Linked DNA regions of Homo sapiens: region 2 is linked to region 1. Evidence: fine-mapped expression QTL. A gene starts in region 1. The other region holds a variant in brackets. All regions are shown on one strand. Distances are between the middles of the regions.

What was found. PIP is the estimated chance that this variant, and not a neighbour inherited with it, causes the effect.
Region 2: its variant is fine-mapped to the expression of CLCN1 in whole blood (INTERVAL, PIP 0.98).

Annotation. Positions count from the first base shown.
Region 1 is chr7:143,308,206-143,321,139 of GRCh38, reverse strand. It overlaps CLCN1 (chloride voltage-gated channel 1), which reads right to left and starts at 5,029. Exons shown (of 23, transcript NM_000083.3): 1 at 4,748-5,029; 2 at 1,265-1,385; 3 at 345-476. The coding sequence starts at 4,927. It also overlaps the pseudogene HINT1P1.
Region 2 is chr7:143,339,724-143,349,913 of GRCh38, reverse strand. CLCN1 (chloride voltage-gated channel 1) reads right to left here. Exons shown (of 23, transcript NM_000083.3): 15 at 7,772-7,985; 16 at 7,409-7,542; 17 at 4,152-4,393; 18 at 3,663-3,774; 19 at 3,256-3,335; 20 at 2,965-3,003. Among named protein-coding and RNA genes, the nearest start is that of FAM131B-AS1, 17 kb to the left of the region's middle. RefSeq lists silencers at 4,318-4,397, 4,204-4,498. The variant T/C (reference allele first, on the strand shown) is at 4,024.

The sequences.
Region 1 (12,934 bases):
GCCTGGGTGTGACCAACCACCCGGTGTGCCCAGAACCAAGGGGCTTCCTGGGATTCGGGATGTTCAGTGCTGAAACTGGGAAAGTCCCTGGGGAACTGGGGCAAGTTGGCCACCCTATTAGAGGGGCATCCACTGCTTGGGTGGCAGTGAGTGGAGGGGCGTGAGAAGTGGAGCAGGCCTGGGTCTGGTCTTTTCTGGGCCTGGAGTCCCACCTGATCCCTCTCTGCGCAATATTCGCTTCCCATAACACACCCTGCTTAACATTCGCTTCCGATAACACACCCTGCTTACCCTAGGTAGAAACTCCAGAAACGGCTGTGGGCAAAGGTCCAGGTTAAACCTACCCTGAAGGCTTTTGGCACTGACGTAGTCCATGCTCCAGCTGACCAGAGCCATCAGCAGTCCCAGAAGCACCAGAAAGATCCCGTCTTCCCCTAATTTTCTTCTCACCACCTGTCCCAGGCGGTGGATACAATCTAGGAAGAGATGAGGGAAAAAACAAACAAACAAACAACAAACAAACAAACAAACAAAAATATATATATGTAGAGACAGAGAGAGAGAGAGAGAGAGAGAGAGAGAGAGAAAAGCAGCTAACGAGTCACTACTTTACTTTGGGTGCTATACCCAAGATGGGAGGGGAAGCCTTGGGCCCCCAGGGTCCGTATGTCTTATGCACTGAGTTTCTCATTACCCCTCTGCTGATTGCTGCTCCGGCCCCTGCAAAAGGCACCAAAGCCCAGTTCCCCATGAATACTTGAATTCCTTCCTAAAACTCATTTCTTGGAGTTGTGGGAGGAATAACAGGGAATAGGCAAAGTGCGAAGGAGGTGAAGAGAGGTGCCTTTTCCTTAATACTTAGAGGGGCCAAGCATGGTGGCTCACGCCTCTAATCCCAGGAATTTGGGAGGCTAAGGCGGGAGGATTGCTTGATGCCAGGAGTTCAAGACCAGCCTCAGCATCCTTACAAAAAAAGTTTTAAAATTAGCTGGGCATGGTGGCATGTGCCTATAGTCTCAGCTACTGGAGAGGCTGAGGCAGGAGGATCACTTGAGCCCAGGAGTTCTAGGCTGCAGTGAGCTATGATCACTCCACTGCACTTCAGTCTGAATGACAGAGTGAGACCCTGTCTCTTAAAAACAATTAGAGGAGAGTTTTTGTAGCAGGGCAGGGAGTACGTACGTGCAATGGGATGCCCAAGTTATTCTCCTAATCCCTGTACCTGTTTCTACTCCAGATTTCTTTATTCCTCAGTCCCCATCACCTTGACATTTAGAATAGTGATCCTCATCCTTGCTGTCCACGGTAGAACTGGAGCCTGTCTTCTTGGGCATCCCTATGTCCTGCTCCCTGTCTGAGAATTGTTCTTTGTGATGGCCATAAATCTGGACAGAGAGAGAATGATCAGTGTCTGCCTTGTGGAAGACTAAAAAAATAATAGACAGAGGCCAGCAGACAGACTCACAGAAGAAAAGAACAACAGCTTTTTGAATTCTGGGTGTTGACTGCATGCAGGGTGACTTTGTGGTCATCCCTGCCCTCTACTCTCCACCCTCCATTCCCACACTTCCCACCCTTTCCCTTGTTCATTCATCCTACCTTCTCTACACCCATTCTCCAACCTGTACTCACCTTGATCCAGGGTAGCCTTTATCAAGGAGGCCAGTTTTTGCTTTGAAGCAGAGGTACAGAACTGTGCTGAACCCAGGTGGCCATATCAATCAGGTGTTTTGTGTCACTGCGCTTTCTGTATGTCCCACAATTTCCCCAGACCACTTGCATTGACTTTTCTCCTAACATGAACAGGGTGAGGACAGACTGGGCTAACTAGCAGGGCAGTCTTGGTTGCACTTTGCCTTGGTGTGTCTAGCCTTACCTGAGGCACCTCAGGTCCTCTATCAAGCTTCAAGACCATCCACTTCATCTCCCAGTGCTTGTATGCACACACAAGAACTAGCCCGAAAAGGCAGGTCCATCTACTTCTTCCCACAGCTAGATAATTAGACCCCTACCTGCCCCACATGTGAAGAGGACAGAGCAGCTCCCCCAGGTCTGGTGGCCCTCCGCTTCCATCCTGAGGCAGAGCACGTGTGTCTGTGTGGGGTATACAAGAGCTCCAACCACTTTTAGCCTGCCCCACTCCCACTACACTAACTGTCCTCTGGGGCCAGGGTCAGGCCAGGCCATGTTGCTGGATTCTGGGAGAGCCTGAGTAGAAGAGATCTGATTTCACAATATGAGCAGCATTTTACACCGCAGTCCTGAACAAGCACGCACATGAATTGCCCTGCTCATGGCTGTTTGTCTTCTGGGTCAGTGACCGAGGGAGGCAGTGTTTCCTTCCAAACCCTGCGTGGGACCCAGAGAGAGAACATACTTCCCAGTGGAAGTCAGACAGCTGAGGCTGTCTCAGCTCCTCAAGGCCCCAGGCCAGTGGAGACAAGGAAGGGGGTTGCTTCATATCATCATACCTGGGCTGGGAAAACACTTAAAGGGCCAGATCTGTTCTGGCTGGTCCCATGCAGGGCAGGGTGAGGGGAGGGCAAGGGAGAAGTCAAAACTCAAGTCTACAAGTGATACAATGTCTGGGATTTGTTAAAAAGTATTCCAAGGTGGAAGCAAGGCTCAGTGGCTCACCCCTGTAACCCCAGCACTTTAGGAGCCTGAGATGGGCAGGTTACCTGAGGTCAGGAGATCAAGACCAGCCTGACCAACATGGAGAAACCTCGTCTCTACTAAAAATACAAAAATTAGCCAGGCATGGTGGCGCATGCCTGTAATCTCAGCTACCTGGGAGGCGGAGGCAGGAGAATTGCTTGAACCAGGGAGGCGGAGATTGCGGTGAGCTGAGATCGCGCCATTGCATTCCAGCCTGGGCAACAAGAGCGAAACTCCATCTCAAAAACAAAAAACAAAAAACAAAAAACAAAAAAAAAGTATTCCATGGTGTGTAGAGTGGTGAGGGTGGGGAAGGGAAGAATAGATGGAACAATAGTGACAAAATATTGACAACTGGTGGGTACTTGGGGCTTCACTATACCATTCCATTTTTGTGTAAGTCTTCCATAATAAAAATTAAACAAAGAAAAACTAATCCAAACTCTTGTTTACTTTTGAGACCTGTAGAAAACAGGCCAATTCTACTCCCCAAACTAACCATAGCTTCCCAACACGAGAACTGTCATCAGGAAGTGCCATAATGGCACTGTTACTCAAGTTGCCATCCCACCCAGATACAACCATGTACACGAGTGAGAACACAGGGCCAGGGGGAGGGGTCTTCCCTCCTGCTGATCCCACACAGTGTTCAAAGGCCTAGTCAGACCCCGCTGTCTCCAAGAAACCTTCCCAATGCTCGATTCCAGCCTACACTGACCTGTATGTCCCTCTTCCCTACTGGGTCCCTAGCGCTGCCTTTGCAAATACTCCTGGGGGTTGGTCAGGGACTGAGAGCAGATCCTTTTGACCCCCAGTGCTGAGATCCCCTGCATAGCTCATGCCTCAGCTTCCCAGCCTTAAACCTAAAGGAACTGAAGGCTCCCTGTTAAAAAAAAAAAAAAGAAAGAAAAAAAAGCCTTTTAAGTTCTGACCAGACTGGGCACAGTGGTTAACACCTGTAATTCCAGCACTTTGGGAGGCCAAGGCGGGTGAATTACCTGAGGTCAGGAGTTCGAGACAGCCTGGCCAACATGGCAAAACCCCGTCTCTACTGAAAGTACAAAAATTTGCCAGGTATGGTGGCAGGTGCTTGTAATCCCAGCTACTCAGGAGGCTGAGGAAAGAGAATTGCTTGAACCCGGGAGGCGGAGGTCGCAGTGAGCCAAGATAGCACCACTGCACTCCAGCCTGGGAGACAGAGCGAGACTCCATCTCAAAAAAAAAAAAAAAAAAAAAAGTTCTGGCCAACTGCCCTCTAGACAAATTCTATCCTCTGTTATTCTCTGCATTCTTTGGAGGGAGAGGCACACTTACTTATTAACCATGACCTATCTTTTTCCATGACAATTTCACAACCTTTCCTTTAGTTGTGCCCATCCCCATTCCCCCTTTCCTAGGTGTTCATATCCCACCAATCCCACAGCGGGAGGCTGCTCATCCATAGACACTCCTAATTAGCCTGCATGCTTCTGTTGCTGGGATCACATCTCTGCCCTTTTCCAGGTGCCTAACACTTAATAGGTTCTTACTTGATCATCTTGCGACCTAAAAGCTTGTACATCTCTGCTCATTTTGACGTTGGTAGATCTTTGATCACTGATAAGCAATTCAGTCTGTTTTCTACACTTGCCCAATTCCTTTCTTCTGCCTTCTGCAGAAAGATTCATGTTTGTGTGTATTCTGCAGAGGGTCCCAGAGGCAGAAATCTGGCAGTGTCTACCTGTGGGTGAGGGTGTGGGAGACAGCTCCCAGCACACTGCAGTGTGGGCTCCTACGCAATCCACTCCACGTAGGTTATGTAAGCACGAGCTATTCATGCATGTGAGGCTCTGCTGTTTCCCCATATGATTTGGGTACTCTGTTGGTAAAGGTTGTATGAAAGTGCATGCATATCTCTCTAAGTGCATACTTAAGTGAGCCCAGACTTTCAAAGATTTTCATATTTTGAACACATCACCACGTACTTGTTTTTTAAGTTAAAAAAATGTAACACTGCTCCCTCTTTTCACCCAATTCCTCATTTTCACCAGTCTCTGGCACCACTGTCTCCCCTCATCCATGGCTCCCCTCTCCCCTTAGAGCACTTTACCTGTGTGGGGTGGACGTTGTGGCGGGGGCCTGCATCCTTCCGGAGCCTGTGCTGGAGGCCCCCATTCTCAGAGGGCAGTCCGTAGCTGGTGCAGTGTTCAAAGGGCATATACTGGTACTGGGGGTCACTACCCCACCAGCTTTGTTCACCCCCACGCTGCTGTGACCGGGATTGCTCCATATTCCCTCCCCCCGAGCCCCGGCCAGGCCTTGGCCTGCTTGCCCCTGTCCTTCCCCCAGTGTAGCTCCTTAAGCCTCTGCTCTTGCTGTCCCCAAGGCGTCTGGGGCAGCATGCCCACCTCCAGCTATTTATAGACCCCTCTCCGTCACATGACCCCCCACTGCCACATCTGATCTGCTTGGGGTCGAAGCAGGTGTGAGTGCAGTGTGGGGGTGGGGGTTGGGATGAGAACCTGAGGGACAGCCCCACAGGGAATTCCCTCTGCTGAGCCAGTGGCATTGTCCCCCTTCTTAGTCACCAGTAGTAGGCTTCCAGCTCCATGTCACTGGTCCCTCTATAAATATCGCCTGGACCAGGATGAGAAACTGCTGAGTATGCTCTCAAACCTATGTGTAGAGCCGGATCTGCATGGAAGCCCTCCAGTTGCCCATCTCTCTTCTTCAGGATGCGGAAGGTGAGGGGTGGGTGCTGGATAAAGATGAAGCGACTCGAAGTTCTGGAAACACTGGCACATTAACTCACCTGGGAAAGTAACTGGTGCCTCTCTGCCACATCTCCTGGCCAGCTTGTTCCCAACTCTGTGTCCACCCAGGGTTCTGTCTGGCCAGCTCTGCCAGCCCATCCCATGTCCAGCGTTCTTCTCTAGCTCTTTGCCCTTCTGTCTGCCAGAGGCTGCTAATAACAGCTTGGGGGCATCCCCTGATCCCATCCTTATCACTCACTGGGTGTGGAACACTTATGGGAAGTGGGAAGTCGAGGGTCGGTAATAGCCTTGGGTTCTAGAATTTCTCCCACTTCCCAGACTGTTAGGTGTCAGCCACACTGCCAACCCGGAGGGACTGAGCTTCCATTTGGACTGTGGAGTGCCCACACTGGCTCCATCAGATAGATAACAAGGGAGATAACAGGGGAGAATCGAAAGTAGAAAGAGGCACAGGGAAGGGAGAGGTGGGAAAGGGGTGAGGGCTTCTCATGACAAGCCCGACAAACATGAAAGATGATGGGGAAGTGCTCTCTGCTATTCTTCCCTTTTCAGGTCAATAAATACTTTTTTGGCCAAGGACAAACTTTTCTTCCTGGCATCACGTTATAAAACCAATTTTCCTATGACATGTCTTCCCTATGAACTCTTCACTGTAGGAGAAAAGATATGAACTGAGCCAAAGTAAAGTTTAGGATGCATTACCAAGTGGGGTCTGTCCCAGGACAGTCCAAGTTCAGGGACTGCAGGGTAGGGACACCAAACATCTGGTCTACAATGTGATTTTGACCTAGGCTAAATGGAACCACCCAAAGCAGGAGGGAAGCCAATATCATTAAAAGTACTTTTTCTAGGGCCTCAACATCATTAATCATCAGGAAACCAAAATCATAATGCAATATCGCCTCATACCTGTTAGGATGGCTATTATCAAAAAAGCAAGAGATAGCCATTATTATGGCTATGGATATTATGGTTCATGCTTATAATCCCAGCAATGTGGGTGACCAAGGCGGGTGGAATGCTTAAGCCCAGCAGTTCGAGACCAACCTGGCAACATGGGGAGACCCTGTCTCTATAAAAATTATAAAAATCAGCCATGTGTGGTGGTGCACGCCTGTAGTCCCAGCTACTTGGGAGGCTGAGACAGGAGGATCACTGAAGCCCGGGAGGTGGAGGCTGCAGTGAGCTGGGAAGGCACCACTGCAATCCATCCTGGTCTACAGAGTGAGATTATGTCTCAAAAAAAAATTAAATAAAAAGATGAGATAAATGTTAGTGAGAATGCAGAGAAAAGGGAACCCTTGTGCACTGTTGGTGGGAATGTAAACTGGTATAGTCATTATGAAAAACAGTATAAAAGTTCCTCAAAAGGTAAAAACAGAACTGCCATATGACTCAGCAACTCCCATACATCCAAGGGAAAGGAAATCAGTATCTCAAAGAGGTATCTGCACTCCCATGTTCATTACAGCATTATTCACAATAGCCTAGAAATGGAAACAACCTAAGTGTCCACTAACAGATGAATAATGTCATGTGTATATAAATATATATAATGGAATACTATTCAACCCTGACAAAGAAGAAAATCCTGCCACTTGTGACAACATGGATGAACTTGGAGGACATTACGCTAAGTCAAACATTGCAGACACAGAAAGAAAAATACTGCATGATTGCACTTGTATGTGGAATCTAAAATAGTCAAACTCATAGAAGCAGAAAGTAGAGGGTAGTTGCCAGGGGCTGGGCTGGAGTAGGGGGTGGGAGAATGGGGAAATTTGGTCAAAGGATACAAGGTTCACTTATACAAGATGAGAAAGTCCTGGAGATCTAATGTGCATGGTAACTATAGGTAGTAATACCACATACTTGAAATTTGCTAAGAGGGTAGATCTTGAATGTTCTCACCTCCCTGCACCCCCAAAGCAACTATGTGAGGTGATGGATATGTTAACCGGCTTGATTGTGATGATCATTCACAATGTACACATATATCAACACATCAAGTTGTACATTGTTGGAGGCCGCACAAATGTTTCTTATGATTAGGTACAATTGAAGCTTGTCAGTAACAATATGAACCTGTGATCAATTCAGCAGCTGACCAATCGTTACCTCCTTCTTGTTCTTGTTACCCAGTAAATATGAAGGGCTGAGAAGCTCGGCAGGGGAGCTGCCTTTGCTCACTAGAAGCAGGGAGCTCTCTTCTTCTTCATGTTGCCTTTCCTTAAAACAGTTTCTTTTGTCTTAAGTTTTCATTTCTACATTCGTCCCTTTGTTCGGTCATAATGATGGTTTCAAGTGGTAACAGTAGTAACTGCTGTAATCACGGTCTCAAGTAGTAATTAAATATGTATAATTTCTAGTTGTCAATTATACACCAATGTAGCTAAAAAAAAAAAAAAACAAAACACCTGCTCTAACAACAATCCTACAAACCTCAAGGCCTATAATCTCTCCAAAAAATTACAAATGTGTGATGAATTGAGAGACTAAACATTCTGTGATGATACCCACCTTTTCTGCAGGCAGAAAATAAGGATAGACATCTATGGGATTGGTATGAGCAGAAAGGATTACTTTCTTAACAAAGAAAATAGAATCTGTGGGTTCCTCCCTCCTTCTGAGCCTCTACCCTGCCTGCTGTGTGGGAGACAGGCAGAGATGGCAGGTGAGATCGCCAAGGCTCAGGTCGCTCGGCCTGGTGGCAACACTGTCTTCGGGAAGATCATCTGCAAGGAAATCCCAGCCAAAATCATTTTTGAGGATGACCAGTGCCTTGCTTTCCATGACACTTCCCCTCAAGCACCAACACGTTTTCTGTTGATATCGAAAAAACATATATCCCAGATTTCTGCAGCAGAAGATAATGACGAAAGTCTTCTTGGACACTTAATGATTGTTGGCAAGAAATGTGCTGCTGATTTGGGCCTGAATAAGGGTTATCAAATGGTGGTGAATAAAGGTTCAGATGGTGGACAGTCTGTCTGTCAAGTTCATCTCCATGTTCTTGGAGGTTGGCAGATGCATTGGCCTCCTGGTTAAGCACATTTTGGTGATAATTTTCCCTTCTCTGGGCAATGATTAAGTTAGGCAAGTTCCAGTATGTTAAGTAGCACACTTATTTTTTGCCTGTGTATGGAGAGATTCAAGAAATAATTTTAAAACCGCATACATAATAAAAGACATTGTTGCACACACAAAAAAATAGAGTGCCAAGGTAACACTGCATTCCTTGGAGGACTTCAGAAACAAGATTCTCCCATTTGAGGAGTATAGCTTTCCTGAAAGTGATCAGTTGCTGTAGAAACTTGATAAATATAAGCAGCAAGATATGAGATACAATTATGACTTTCTTACTATTTCTGAGAAAGACAGGGCCCTAAAACAGAGCAGCCTAGTCATGGACTCTGAGATTTGAAGGCAGAGACCAGTGGAGTAGGGAAGTGCTCACATCCAGCCAAGCTGAGTGGAAGCGTGTGGTCTAGAAGGAAAGCACCAACTGCGATTCTTAAAACCAGATTCTGAAATTAGGAGGGTCAAAGACATGTACAGACTGCCAGTGCTGGTGGGCAAGGGTTTGAGAGTAAATATCCTGTGTTTGAAATTAGGAATAGTTTAAATCCCATGGGTTTAAATCCCTGCAAGAGAACAAGAAAAGAAAATGTAAACCATGCCCACTCCTCACTCCATCATCCCGCTGGGCTTAGTAGCTTAGGTTCTTATTTGGAGGCACAAAGATGGGCTTCTAGGGATTCCTGTAAGGCTCCTGAATGTGGAAGCAAATTCATAAGCATGCATAAATGATATATATTCTTTCGGGTTTTATTTATTTTATTTATTTATTTTTTGAGATGGTGTCTCACTGTCACCCAGGCTGGAGTGCAATGGCGCGATCTCTGCTCACTGCAACCTCCGTCTCCCGGGTTTGAGCGATTCTGTCACCTCAGCCTCCCGAGTAGCTGGGATTACAGGCACTTACGGTCATGCCCGGCTAATTTTTGTATTTTTGTAGAGATGGGTTTCTCACCATGTTGGCCAGGCTGGTCTTGAACTCCTGACCTCAGGTAATCTGCCCGCTTTGGCCTCCCAAAGTGTTGGGATTACAGGTGTAAGCCACTGCACCCGGCCTCTTTTGGGGTTTTAAATAGATCATCCTAGGGTCCATTATACAAAAAGTTTAAAAGCCCATAGGCTTATAGAATTGCTATTTGAAGGAAAATCGTAAAAAGTTGCCATGCAAGATACATGGAGGAGAAGTTTTGTGTTGGGTATAGGTGAAAGAATTTTCTTTCTGGGTTACACCCTTGTTTTCAGACTCTCACGTCTTCCAGTCTGGCCTCCCCAGCATAGTGGGCAGTAAAACCCTTATGTTCTTTAAAGGTGTTTTCAGTCATCACTTTCCCTCTGCATATCCAGGCAGCCATGGAACCCGTGGCCACCTACTTTCTGAAATTTCAGCTAAGCTACAACTTCCTCTGAAGACACTTTGTATTGTATGCCACTGGCGGTCATGTCTCCTCTCCTCTTTATTGTGGCTTGCCTCCTTATTCTTTTTTATTTTTTTTTTTTGAGACGGAGTCTCGCTCTGTCGCCCAGGCTGGAGTGCAGTGGCGCGATCTCGGCTCACTGCAAGCTCCGCCTCCCGGGTTCACGCCATTCTCCTGCCTCAGCCTCCGGAGTAGCTGGGACTACAGGCGCCCGCCACCACGCCCAGCTAATTTTTTGTATGTTTTAGTAGAGATGGGGTTTCACCGTGTTAGTCAGGATGGTCTAGATCTCCTGACCTCATGATCCGCCCGCCTCGGACTCCCAAAGTGCTGGGATTACAGGCGTGAGCCACCACGCCCAGCCAGCCTCCTTATTCTTTAAGCATCCTTAGTCCTTTCCCATCCCCTGCACGTCAGGCTTTCCCTGTAGTATTCGACAGGTCTCCTTCTCCCCCTTCTGGCTTTTCAAACATGATACATTTTCCCCCAAACTCCTACCTAATTAGGACTTAAGATGGAATAAGGTTTGGGTCTCAGTTTCATTCCCACAGCCCAATGGGAGGAATCTTACAGCCCAAAAAAAGGAAGAAAAAAATCCTTCATGCCAGAATAAGTCACAGAAGCAAGGCTGTTAGCATACGCTCAAACTGACAGCTTTGGTTTCACATCCTGACCTCAGTTTCCTCAGAAAGGAAGTAACTAGAGGGTTAAGAAGATAAAATAACACATGCAAAAAAACATGCTATAGGCTGGGTGCGGTGGCTCACACCTGTAATCTCAGCACTTTGGGAGGCCAAGGTGGGTGGATAACGAGGTCAAGAGATTGAGACCATCCTGGCCAACATGGTGAAATCCCGTCTGTGCTTAAAATACAAAAATTAGCTGGGCGTGGTGGCGTGCGCCTGTAATCCCAGCTACTCGGGAGGCTGAGGTAGGAGAATCACTTGAACCCGGGAGACGGAGATTGCAGTGAGCCGAGATCACACCACTGCACTCCAGCCTCACGACAGAGTGAGACCCCATCTCAAAACAAAACAAAAATGTGCTATAGTGTTTGATTCATAGTAAGAACTGTTCACTCATATTAAACTGAAGCTCATTCTGTGAGTTAACATTTATCAAGCATTTTTTATGCATTAACACCATGTGATTTACATGCATCATCACATTTAATCCTCATAGGGACATTGGAAGGTAGACACAATTTTCCTCATTTTCAAATAAGGGAAATTGGGGCTGTGTTAGCTACCTTGATCAAGGTCTCCAATATCTTCAAAGGCAGAGCCGGCATTCAAAATCAGATCTACTGAATTCTAGAGTCCATACCGTTAAAGCTACATTTGTGGCCAGGCGCGGTGGCTCACTCACGCCTATAATCCCAGCACTTTGGGAGGCTGAGGTGGGTGAATCACCTGAGCTCAGGAGTTCAAGACCAGCCTGGGCAACATGGTGAAATCCCATCTCTACTAAAAATACAAAAATTAGCTGGGTGTGGTGGCGTGTGCCTGTAATCACAGCTACTCGGGAGGCTGAGACAGGAGAATCGCTTGAACCTGGGAGGCAGACGTTGCAGTGAGCTGAGATCACGCCATTGTACTCCAGCCTGGGCAACAACAGCAAAATTGTTTCAAAAACAAAAGGGAAAATGACTCCTTCACAGAAGCATGGGGAAGATGAAATGGAAAGCTCCTCTCAATGCCTACAACATACCAAGGACTCAAACAGTTGTAGCTATTATTAATGTCTTCCTCCTTCTCAGATTAGACGTCTTTCCTCTTGTGTTGTGTGTGTGTTTTTTTTTTTTTTTTTTTAAAGATGGGGGTCTCACTATGTTGCCTAGGCTGGTTTTCAACTCCTGGGCTCAAGCAATCCTCTCTCCTTAGCCTCTTGAGTAGCTGGTACTATACGTATGTGTTACTGTGCCTGGCCTCATTCTTTATTTTTTAGAGACGGGGTTTTGCCATTTTGCCCAGGCTGGTCCCAAACTCTTGAGCCCAGGTGATCCACCTGCCTCAGCTTCCCAAAGTGCTGGGATTACAGGCATGAGCCACTGCGCCCGGCCAGTCTGGCACCATTCTTAATATCACAGCTTTGGTTGGGTGTGGTGGCTCATGTCTGTGATCCCAGTACTCTGGGAGGCCGAGGTAGGAGGATCACTTGAACCCAGATGTTTGAAACCAGTGTGAACAACATAGTGAGACCTCATCTCTATTTTATAGAATAAAATTTTAAAAATTAAAAAAAAATCAGCTTTGGTCTGATATTACAGTTTTTCCTTCTTCCTGTTTTCCTTTTCCCTATTAGAGGAAACAGGATGGAGGAGGGCAGCAGAGGGCAGCCCCCAGCTCTGGGAGGGGAATAATTTTAGAAGAGAATCCTCTGGCAGAGGTAAGCAGAAGGGAGCAGAGCTGTGAAATTCAACCTCATACCCTTATTCAAGGGCAAGGGGGTTGGGGGGCGGGGAGGACATGGAATCCAGTTCAGAGATACTGCTCTGTAATTCTCAAACATATCACACCACTGAAAATGCTTCCTATCCTGAAAATGGGTATTTATCTTACTTCCACTATTTCCATAATTTCTTCGCCTGTCCTAGATTTTGTATCCTTCCCTTGAGGCTATCCCATGGTTGTTTTTCTTGCAGTACAACCAACCAGTTTCAGTCCATTTTTCATGCCCTTTTGTCTCCAGTGTTCTGTACCAAATTCTGCTCTATCTGCCGAGGTGCTTCAGCTCACCTCAATCCCCTTCTGCTCTTCCTAGACTGCCATACCCTTCTCTGTATGACTCAACAATATTTCCAGCTCCCACAGCTGTTTCCTACCAAACAAAAAAGTTTTGTTTCTGGTTTGTTATAGGTGGCTCATACCTATAATCCTAGCACTTTGGGAGGCCGAAGCGGGCTGATCACTTGAGGCCAGGAGTTAGAGACCAGCCTGGCCAACATGGTGAAATCCCGTATTTAAAAAAAAAAGTTTTGTTTCCTACCAAAACTTCTGTACAAAGTTCCTACAGAACATTCCATCTCTT
Region 2 (10,190 bases), 30 kb before region 1:
TTTCCTGACTCTCCCAATCAGATGTGCTTCTCCCCTTTTTTATTCCCATAGTATTAGCTGGTCTCACCTTTTCAGAAATGACATTGGCCATACTTCCTGCTGTATTGGCATCTGTCTTACCTCTGCATTTGTCTTGAGTGTTATGTGGTATCGGCTGCTGTATATTGTGAAGAAACTAGCACATCACCTCTCATGCAGGGAACTGTAGTGGGTACTTGTTGAAATTGAAGAGCTATACTGGACCTCATGGCACTTAGCTGACTTGAGCAAAGCCAGTTTTTGTTTGTTTGTTTTTGTCTATGACAGAAGCATTAAGGCACAAAGGCCAACCATCCTCTTGACTTTAGATACGCACACCAAAATTCCCAAGAGTCCAAATAATCCATTACATCTCTGGCTCTCTTACATTTTTCTAAAATTTCTAAAATCTCTTTTCAGTCAGTATCCTCTGAATGATCTAGAACTCTATTTTCCTATTTGTCCAAATCTACACCTCTCAAACTTCAGAGAATATCACCAAAGGGCATTATATAGGTTTAGGATCTGGTGTGTAGCCCGTAGTGATGCTCACTCCACCTGTCCTGTCCTGATATTTCTGGATTACAATCATGACTCCTCTATACTCTCATCTTCCGGACTAATGGATTACAGAGGTTACATAGCATAGGATGGATGACCACTTAGCAGGTGTGTTGTAGAGAAGATTTAGGTATAGGACGGGGGCTAGACCTTGCCAACCATGGTTTGGTCCATCCCGTCCTCTTGGTCTTTTCTATGATCATCTGTGGCCTTATGTTCCGTTTTTGCCTTTCCTTAACAATAACGCGGCAACATTTTCAGTGAATGATTATCAAGTACATCCTCTTTGCCAAGCATTATTCTAATTGACTTACCCGTCTTAGCTCATTTAATCTTCTCTAATAACTCTATCATTATCTTCACTTTATAGATGAGGAAACAGAGGCACAGCATGTTGAAGTCATTTGCCCAGGATTACACAGTCAGTAATTGGTGGAGCTGGGCTTCTAACCTTGACTGCTGTTTGTATTCCAGGTACATCTCCAGCTTTTGCGCAAGGGATGCAGGACGTTGCTGTTGAGGCTGGTGTGTTCCACTACTTGAATAAGCTCGGTACCGGTTAGAAACAGAGCTCTGTGTGTACTCCAGAGTATGCAGAATTAAACAAATCCTAGTAGGGACTTCTGGCAACATATAATTGAATCTTTCAATATTCCCATACTGCCCCCATACTGTTTTTTTGGTCAATATCAACATCTTGATATTGTCAAGGGTATCATCTGGTCTGAAAATTGTGTTCAAAACATCCTGAATTTCAACTCCTGTTAGATCTTATCCCTCTAAAATGTCTCAGTGGGTCACATGGGAGTTGGTAGCTCCTTAAAGTCTTCCCTGGGAAAGACATAAGCTAGAAATGATAGTCTATCTTATTTTTAATCCCTGGCTTCACTTTATTTCCAGTGGTCATTCAATAGCCACACTGATCAACTAGCTGGTTTTCTCTCTTTGGTGCATTAAATTAAAAAAAAGAAAAAAAGCAAAACTTATTGTTATTGGTTTTAGCAACCTAACAAAGTACTCCTTAACTGCAATTATGGCCTTTCTGATTCCTGCTTGTGGGCAGAAGGAATAGTTCTTCCTTTCCCTCTGTGATCATCGATTTGACTTTTTCACAAGTCATTTATCAGAAGTGTGTGTGTTTTGAGGGGGTGGGGAAGGTTTCTCTTCTGTCTTGTCACTCACAACATCCTCCTCCAATCCTGTAATGCTTTTCATTGTCAGCACATATTTATTCTGGATATCCAATAAGATGTTCATTTAAAAATAATATCTGCCGTGTTTTTTTTGTCAGCTTCATACTTTACAAGCTTTACGTTTTCGGCGTTTGCAGCAAACTCTGCATTCTTTTACCATATGGAATAGTTGCCAATGGATTTTTCTGTTGATGTTCCTCCACAACCCCTCGGTATGTTCTGATACCGCCTGCTTCCAATCACTAGTCCACATTCTGTTCCCTCCTGACAACCAAGCACATTCAGAATGCTTGATTTTTCTCTCTTGAAGATTTGATAACCACCTCGTTTAGGAAAATAGGCATTTGTTTGTCCCCAGGAGGCACCGTGGTCATTATTTTCTTCCTTTTTCAGTTCTTCCCAGTAGCAATGCCTAGCATTTTCCAGTTGTTCACTGTCTCAGGGCCCTGATCAATCCAGCACAGTAATCTCCACCAGGAGCAGATTTCTCCATTTTAGTTTTTTTTTTTTTTTTTTTTTTTGAGGCAAAGTCTGGATCTGTCACCCAGGCTGGAGTGCAGTGGTGCAGTCTCTGCTCACTGCAACCCCCACCTCCCGGGTTCAAGTGATTTTCGTGCCTCAGCCTCCCAAATATCTGGGATTACAGGTGCGTGCCACCATGCCCGGCTTATTTTTGTATTTTTAGTAGAAATGGAGTTTCACCACGTTGGCCAGGCTGGTCTCAAACTCCTGACCTCAGGTGATCTGCCTGCCTTGGCCTCCCAAAGTGCTGGAATTACAGGCATGAGCCACCATGCCCGGCCTCCCATTTTAGTTTTGATGTTCTTCTTCTATGTTGCTGTTTTAGTGCCAGCCTCCTGGTGCCATTTTACCTCCATTAAAGCTTTGCCTGATCCAGAAAGCCCATAATCTCTAAAAGATCTGGGGCTCATCTTAGCACCATGGCCCCATTTACTCATGGAGGCTCAAAGTTTTTCTCTTCTGAAATGACGTGTCCTTCTGAGAACACCTCCATGTCCCATCACACACTCATTACTCTCTCCATAATCATCCTTATTTCCATCCTCTCAAAACACTTCCCATCCAGACCACATTCTATTTCATGACAACACAATAAAGAAGGTAGAAACAAATTAGCAATATCTTCATTTGATAGAACAATCCACCCCAGGTTTCCATTTCCCTTACTCACCTCTTCAGGTGACATGTTATCCACTAAATCTGTGGAATCCTAGAGAAGAAAGACATAGGTCCAAGTTCTTTCCCTTTTCTTCCCATGGTAGCTATGGCTCCCAATGAAACAATAGCCATCCCTCCCTGGCCAGGACCACCGATGCCTCCTTTTCATTCATCATCCCTTCCATATGATTAAACTCCTCCTCCTTGGTGGGGTCTCTGCCTTCCTGATTTAAGAACCGTGGGTTTCTCACTCTTCAAGGGCAGGCTCCCTTTCCCCTGTATCCCCAAACACATCTCCTCTCACCTGGGTTGTTTTCTTCTTTGTGGGGCGAGCTCTGCCCAGCAAGCAGTGAAGCAGGGACTGGAAGATGGAGGGTCTTTGACCTGAGAGGACAGGTGAGTGGATGGAAATGGACACAAAGCAACAGGAAACGGCCAGGGGCCCCACCCAGTGCCTAACATTTGCCTCCAAAGAGCTGCACTTCCCAGGTACCTCACCCTCTCTTCTACCCTCCTAAATCACCCTCTGCTCCCACTCCCTGGGACAGTAACAAGGAGAATTGATGAATAAGAACCCTGTCCTCCCTCAATCCCCCAGCCTCACCCCCCACCCCACCCCGCATAGGAATTGCATGCAGGTCAAGGTCAGGTCCTAGTGACCAGAGAGAACCCACAAGGGGTGAGTTGGGGTGCATGAGGGAAGAGCGTCACCTGCAGGCTCTGGTGCTTCCGGCTGCTGTTTGTGGCCAGGCAGAGGCCCATTGGGCTCTTCTGGGGACAGAGGGGCAGTAGTAGAGGGGTGGAGAGCAAGGGAAGGAGGAAGCTGTAAGGAAGAGTAAGAAGTCTCAGCCTGGGAGCAGAGACTGCCTGGGCCTTCACTGCCTTTACCAGTTGGTGGATGTTCTGGGAAAGCGAACTCTATTCTTCCCCCCAGTTCAGAAATTCCTATATCCCTTTGAATTGTCGAGGATACCATCATCTGCAACCTTATCTTCTTTAGTCCCTGGACCCAGAGGCACTGGTCTCTATGGTACCTGATCCAGAATTTCTGGCTTTCTCAGTTACCAGACTC[T/C]CCCCTCCCTCTTCCCACTACTTTCAGGGAAACTACGCCTGTCCCAGCCCAGCCCAGCCCAGCCCAGACGACGCTTTTCCCTTTGCTCCTGATCTATCCCACTCCCTAGCCCTTCCCGGCGCGGTCACCTCGCTCTTGCCAGAGAGGTCTTCGTCCTCATCCTCATCCACAAAGGCGAAGGACTCGGGCCGGCCTGGAGGCGCGCCGGGGAGCCCCTCCCCAGCCAGCCGCGCCTTCCCGTCGTAAGGCAGCTCCGACAACTTCCGCGCCATCTCTTGGGCTGCGCGCAGCCTGCGCTCAGGACACAGGTGGCGCTGCAGGAGGGCCTGCAGTTCCGACCGCTCCACCGAGCCCAGCAGGATCATTGAATCTGAGGGAAACCCACGCCCTGCCTGAGCGCCCCCTCCAAGCCCTCTCGCACCACCGCGCTCCGCACTCCTGAGAAGGAACAGGAGAGGCGCCACCCTGCCCGGCGTCCCCACATCTTTCTCAGCTTCCTGGAAACTCATTTTAAGAATCCTCCAAGATTAACCTCACTCAATCCCTTTTATTTCATCCATTTAGCAGGTACGGGGCCAATTGGTAGAGCACTAATTGGGCTAATTTGTACTTATTTTGATGAGGCCTTATATAGACTTCAGATAGGTGAGCTGATAATTAAGGAGGCTAATCAATGCTGTCCAAATAAAAAGAAACATGAGAAGCCATTCAAATAAGCTGAGACGTGAACACGCTTTGAAAGAAGTCTATAAGCAATACAAACATTATATCTCTCCCTGGAAAAAGGGAAACAAGGGAACTCTTTCTTTTGTATCTGACATTTCATCATTTAAAAAACCTGGGCCAGGCGGTGGCTCACGCCTGTAATCCCACTACTTTGGAAGGCCGAGGCAGGCGGGTCGCCTGAGGTCAGGAGTTCGAGACCAGCCTTGGCCAACATGGTGAAACCCCGTCTCTACCAAAAATAAAAAAATTAGCTGGGCGTGGTGGCAGGCGCCTGTAATCCCAGCTACTTGGGAGGCTGAGGCAGGAGAATCGCTTGAACCCGGGAGGCAGAGGTTGCAGTGAGCTGAGATCGCACCACTGCACTCCAACCTGGGCGACAAGAGCGAGATTTCATTAAAAAAAAAAAAAAAAAACCCTGCTAGGATAAATCAAAATGCCTACTTTTCCTGAGAAGGTCTTTTATATGATTATAGAAATTTTGCTACTATAGTTAACATTTTTATTAAGTTTTAAGGCCAAGACATTGCAGCAGTGCTCTGGAGATGAATTTTACTGTTAGGTCTCAGTCATTATTATGAAAACCTTGCCCCTCATTTGTTGGCTGTACCCCTCCTCTAATAAAGAGCCTCTGCTGTAGAACGTGGAATGTATATGAGATTTGGGAAAATATTTGAATTAATTTAATTTGAGAAATTTGGATATTCTGATTATTGGAAATCAGAACTAACAATCTTAATGACTCCAAATGGCCCTACATGATTTTTCTTTATTACACTAATTCAAACACTAGGAAATTATTCATTTAATATCTAGTAGATACCTATAACAAGGCACTCTGGGTATATAGAATTCATAGCCTCTATTCTCAAGGAATGCCCACCTAGTTAGGAAGACAAGATATAGATATATAAACCACAATAAGAAATCATACAAAGCAGGATGAAGTGTCAAATGATGGTGAAGGCAGAGAAATGTGAAATTATCGTTTACTAACAACCATTCACTCCTCCATGTGAAACAGTTCCAGCCGGGCACAGTGGCTCATGCCTGTAATCCCAGCACTTTGGGAGGCCAAGGCTGGTGGATCGCCTGAGGTCAGGAGTTCGAGACCAGCCTGGCCAACATGGTGAAACCCCGTCTCTACTAAAAATACAAAATTAGCTGGGCATGGTGGTGCATTCCTGTAATCCCAGCTACTCAGGAGCCTAAGGCAGGAGAATCACTTAGAACCCAGGAGACAGAGGTTGCAGTGAGCCAAGATGGCGCCATTGCACTCCTGCCTGGGCAACAGAGTGAGGCTCTGTCGAAAAGAAAGAAGAGAAAAGAAAAGAAAAGAGAGAGAGAGAAAGAGAGAGGGAAAGAGGGAGGGAGAGAGAAAGAGAGAGAGAGGGAAAGAGGGAGGGAGAGAGAGAGAAAGAGAAAGAAAGAAAAAGAAGGAAAGAAAGAAAGAGAAAGAAAGGAAGGAAGAAAGAAAACAGTTCCAACTCTTCCATAAGTTGGGCATTAAAGAACAAGCATGACTTATGTAAGCATCAAAATGGAACAACGTAAGAAGCTATGGGATTTACATTAATTGTCATTATTCATGGATTCCCTATTTGTGAATTCAGCTAGTCACTAAAATATATTTGTAACACAAAACCAATACTAGAGGTGCTTTCACTGTAATTCACAAACATGCAAAGAGCAACAAAGATTTTTAGTTGTCCCATGTCCCTGTTCCCAGCTGAAGTTGAACAAAGCAGTGCTGTACCTTCTTGTTTCAGCTTTCACATTGTAAACAGGTGTTCATTTTGTAGTCTATTTAGTGCCATCCTTTTTGCATTTTTGTGCTTTGTGTTGGTGATTTTGCTGCTAAAAATGACCACCAAATATAATGTCAAAGTGCTGTTTACTGTTCCTAGTGCAAGAAGGCTGTGATGAGCCTTATTGAGAAAATATGTGTGTTAAGTAAGCTTAATTCAGGCAAGGGTTATAGTGCTGTTGGCACAAGTTCAATATTAATTAATCCACAATATCTGTGAAATAAGGTGTCTTTACCAGAAACACACATACAACAAGGTCATATATTGATTGGTTGATGGAAATGTGACCAGAGACTCACAGGAACACAGCCCTGTATTTTTCCTAGGAGCAATTATTCAGTATAGTATTTGAACTTCATACTTAATTGAACATAACTACCATGAATTATGAGAATTGACTGTATTTAGTGGGAAATTTTTTTTTTTTTAACAGAGTTTCATTCTTGTTGCCCAGGCTGCAGTGCAATGACACGTTCTCGGCTCATCGCAACCTCCGTCTCCCGGGTTCTAATTACAGGCATGCACCACCACACCTAGCTAATTTTGTATTTTTAGTAGAGACAGGGTTTCTCCATGTTGGTCAGGCTGGTCTCGAACTCCTGACCTCAGGTGATCTGCCCACCTCGGCCTCCCAAAGTGCTGGGATTACAGGCATGAGCCACCATGCCAGGACCTTTTAATTGCATTTTTAACTGTCTTTGTGTGCTTGTGTTATGGCTTAATTTTTCCTTCCTTGTACATAGCACATTGGATGGCCCCTAAAGACAAAGCCCCCACCATGGGGCCTCCTCTACCTCTATGTGACCCTTATTCAGGTCACTAGCTCTGGAGTCGACTTCTTCCTCCCCACTGACCTTTTGAGTCAACCAGTGGTAAAGTCTTGACTGTGGTGGTCTGGAGCAGGGTTCGCAACTCCCCATATGTGTAAGAAGCTGAAACAAACTTCACATCACGTACCATGATGTCCTCAACAAAGATGGTATATTTGCTATGGAGGGAGAAAGCATGGTGGGTTAGCCCCACCGTATACCTATCCCTTCCATTCCTCCCATAAGATTTGCCATACTTTCAGTCACTCACAATATCTACTAGGTGCATGAGAATATAATAATAATTTAAAACAGTGTTTCCAAACTTTAACTCTAAGCTCAGTCTCAGCCTCAGAACCTCCCACTCTCCCCATCAGATCTGAACTAATTCCGTCTAGTGCCCCTGACCTGAGCTGGTTCCAGCCAAGGTCAGGCAAGTAGGGTAGCTTCTTGACCTGGATGATGCTGTCATAGAGAGAGGGCTGCAGGCTCTGGGCCACCATGTTGGCCAAGATAACAGCCACCATCATGGGCAGGATGTGAGCAATCTGACCCGTTAATTCGAAGCAAATCACAGCTGTGGAGACTGTGTGGGAAACGGCACCAGTCAGCGCTGCTGCTCCTAGAATGACACAGGAATACGCCTGTAGGTTAGGGCTACCGTTCTTAGCATGAAGGACATATGGGGATGGGATGGGAATAACACGGAATGAGAGACATGACCCTGGTCAGTGCCAATACTCATAATGACTTGTCAAGAGTAGGGAATAGAATACTGAACTCTTAGAAAAATCATCATTTTGATCTCATTCTATAAACTTCACCAAGTTACAAAATCTTTGTGTGTGCCAAAATTTTCATTTATAATATGAAGATAGTGATGTCCTATCCATTCCTTGCTTTTAAAAGTTTGGATGATTATTCACTGAGCATTTTATTTTATTATTTTTTAAAATTATTATTATTATTATTATTATTAATTATTATTATTTGAGGCAGAGTCTCACTCTGTCACCTAGGCTGGAGTGCAGTGGTACAATCTCGGTTCATGGGAACCTCCACCTCCCAGGTTCAAGTGATTCTCCTGCCTCAGTCTTCCGAGTAGCCAGGACTACAGGCATGCACCAACACACATGTCTAATTTTTGTATTTTTAGTAGAAACAGGGTTTTGTCATGTTGGCCAGGCTGGTCTCGAATTCCTGGCCTCAAGTGATCTGCCTGCCTCGGCCTCCCAAAGTGCTGAGATCACAGGCATGAGCCACTGTATCAGGCCTCTTCACTGAGCATTTTACAACTCAGTTATAACATTTTTTTTTTTTACCTTGGGCTTTAGGTATTAATGCCAACAATTAGTGAGTAAATAGAATGAAAACCCGAGAATCATACTGTGGACATGCAGCAATGAGACCTGTGTCAGATCCTGCTCTTACTATTTCTCAATGGAATGAGTAGAGCTTAATTCCTCTGGAATCCCATGCTCTCAATTATAAAGCGAAAGGGGTCATTTAGATGATTTCTAAGGCGCTTGTAGATCTGAAACTTTATAATTCTATAAGCTCCCTGAAGATAGAATCTATCTTGTTAATTTTTGGTTGTTTCTCCACTAACCAAAATAGTCCTTTGTGCTTTAATTATATTTCTTATTTAAATATGGAAGAGGTATCCTATGGGGAAAATGTAGAGGAAGGCACATATGAAAATGTAACAAGAAAAAGTCAGCCGGGCATGGTGGCTTATGCCTGTAATCCTAGCACTCTGGGAGGCCGAGACAGGTGGATGACTTGAGGCCAGGAGTTTGAGACCAGCCTGGCCAATATGGTGAAACCCCATCTCTACTAAAATTACAAAAATTAGCCAGACATGATGGCATGTGCCTGTAATCCCAGCTACTTGGGAGGCTGAGGCAGGAGAATCACTTGAGCCCAGGAGGCAGAGGTTGCAGTGAACCCAGATTGCGCCACTGCACTCCTGGGCAACAGAGCAAGACTCTGGAAATAAAAGAAGAGAAGAGAAGGAGAAGGAGAAGAGAGAAAAGAAGGAAGGAAGGGAGAAAGAAAGGGAGAGAGCAACCAAGAAAGCATCACAGAAGGGAAATATAGGGAGGAATGACACTATTGGATATTGCATATAACATACTTCAGAACATAAACAATCACAGGACGTGCATACAAGGAAATGTTCACAAGGGAGGCATGTGTACCAGGGAGTCATGAAGATGGAGAACAAGAGTCTATGACCCTCATTGATGAAAGAGGCTTTTAGAAAGAAACTATGTCAGGGGAGCAGCGTACCAAGTGAGCTAGAAAGCTGGTCAGCACTTCTCTATGTAGGGAAGGCATGGCCTTAGATGCTATGGGATTTTGCTGAGGAAGGGAGGAAGCATAATAATCCCAGGATTCTATTGGTGTTAGGCATAGCTCTATCTCAGAAGTCATTTTAGAATAAAGAAACTAGGGCTCAGAAGCAGCTATCTTGCTTCATGGTGACTGGTAACAAGTGGCAGGAGAAGTCTAGAGCCATGTTTCTTAGCTCTTAGTCCTGTGCTCTTAACTACCCATCAATATCAACACGTCTCAGGTTGAGTCAATCACCTGCAACCTGAGCCAATCACCTGCATTGTTGGTTCCATGATTCTTGGGAAGGAAAGACAGAACCCTTATCAAACATCCAGACACAATCCTAGAATCTTATGATCTCATTTGATCCCTATGATCCTTTTCTACATGAGGAAACTAAGGCTCACGGAAGTTCAGTAAGAAATAATGAGAGTCAGAGCCATGGGTATGTTATCTGAGTAAAAGTTGAGTTAAGTAGCACTAAATTAAA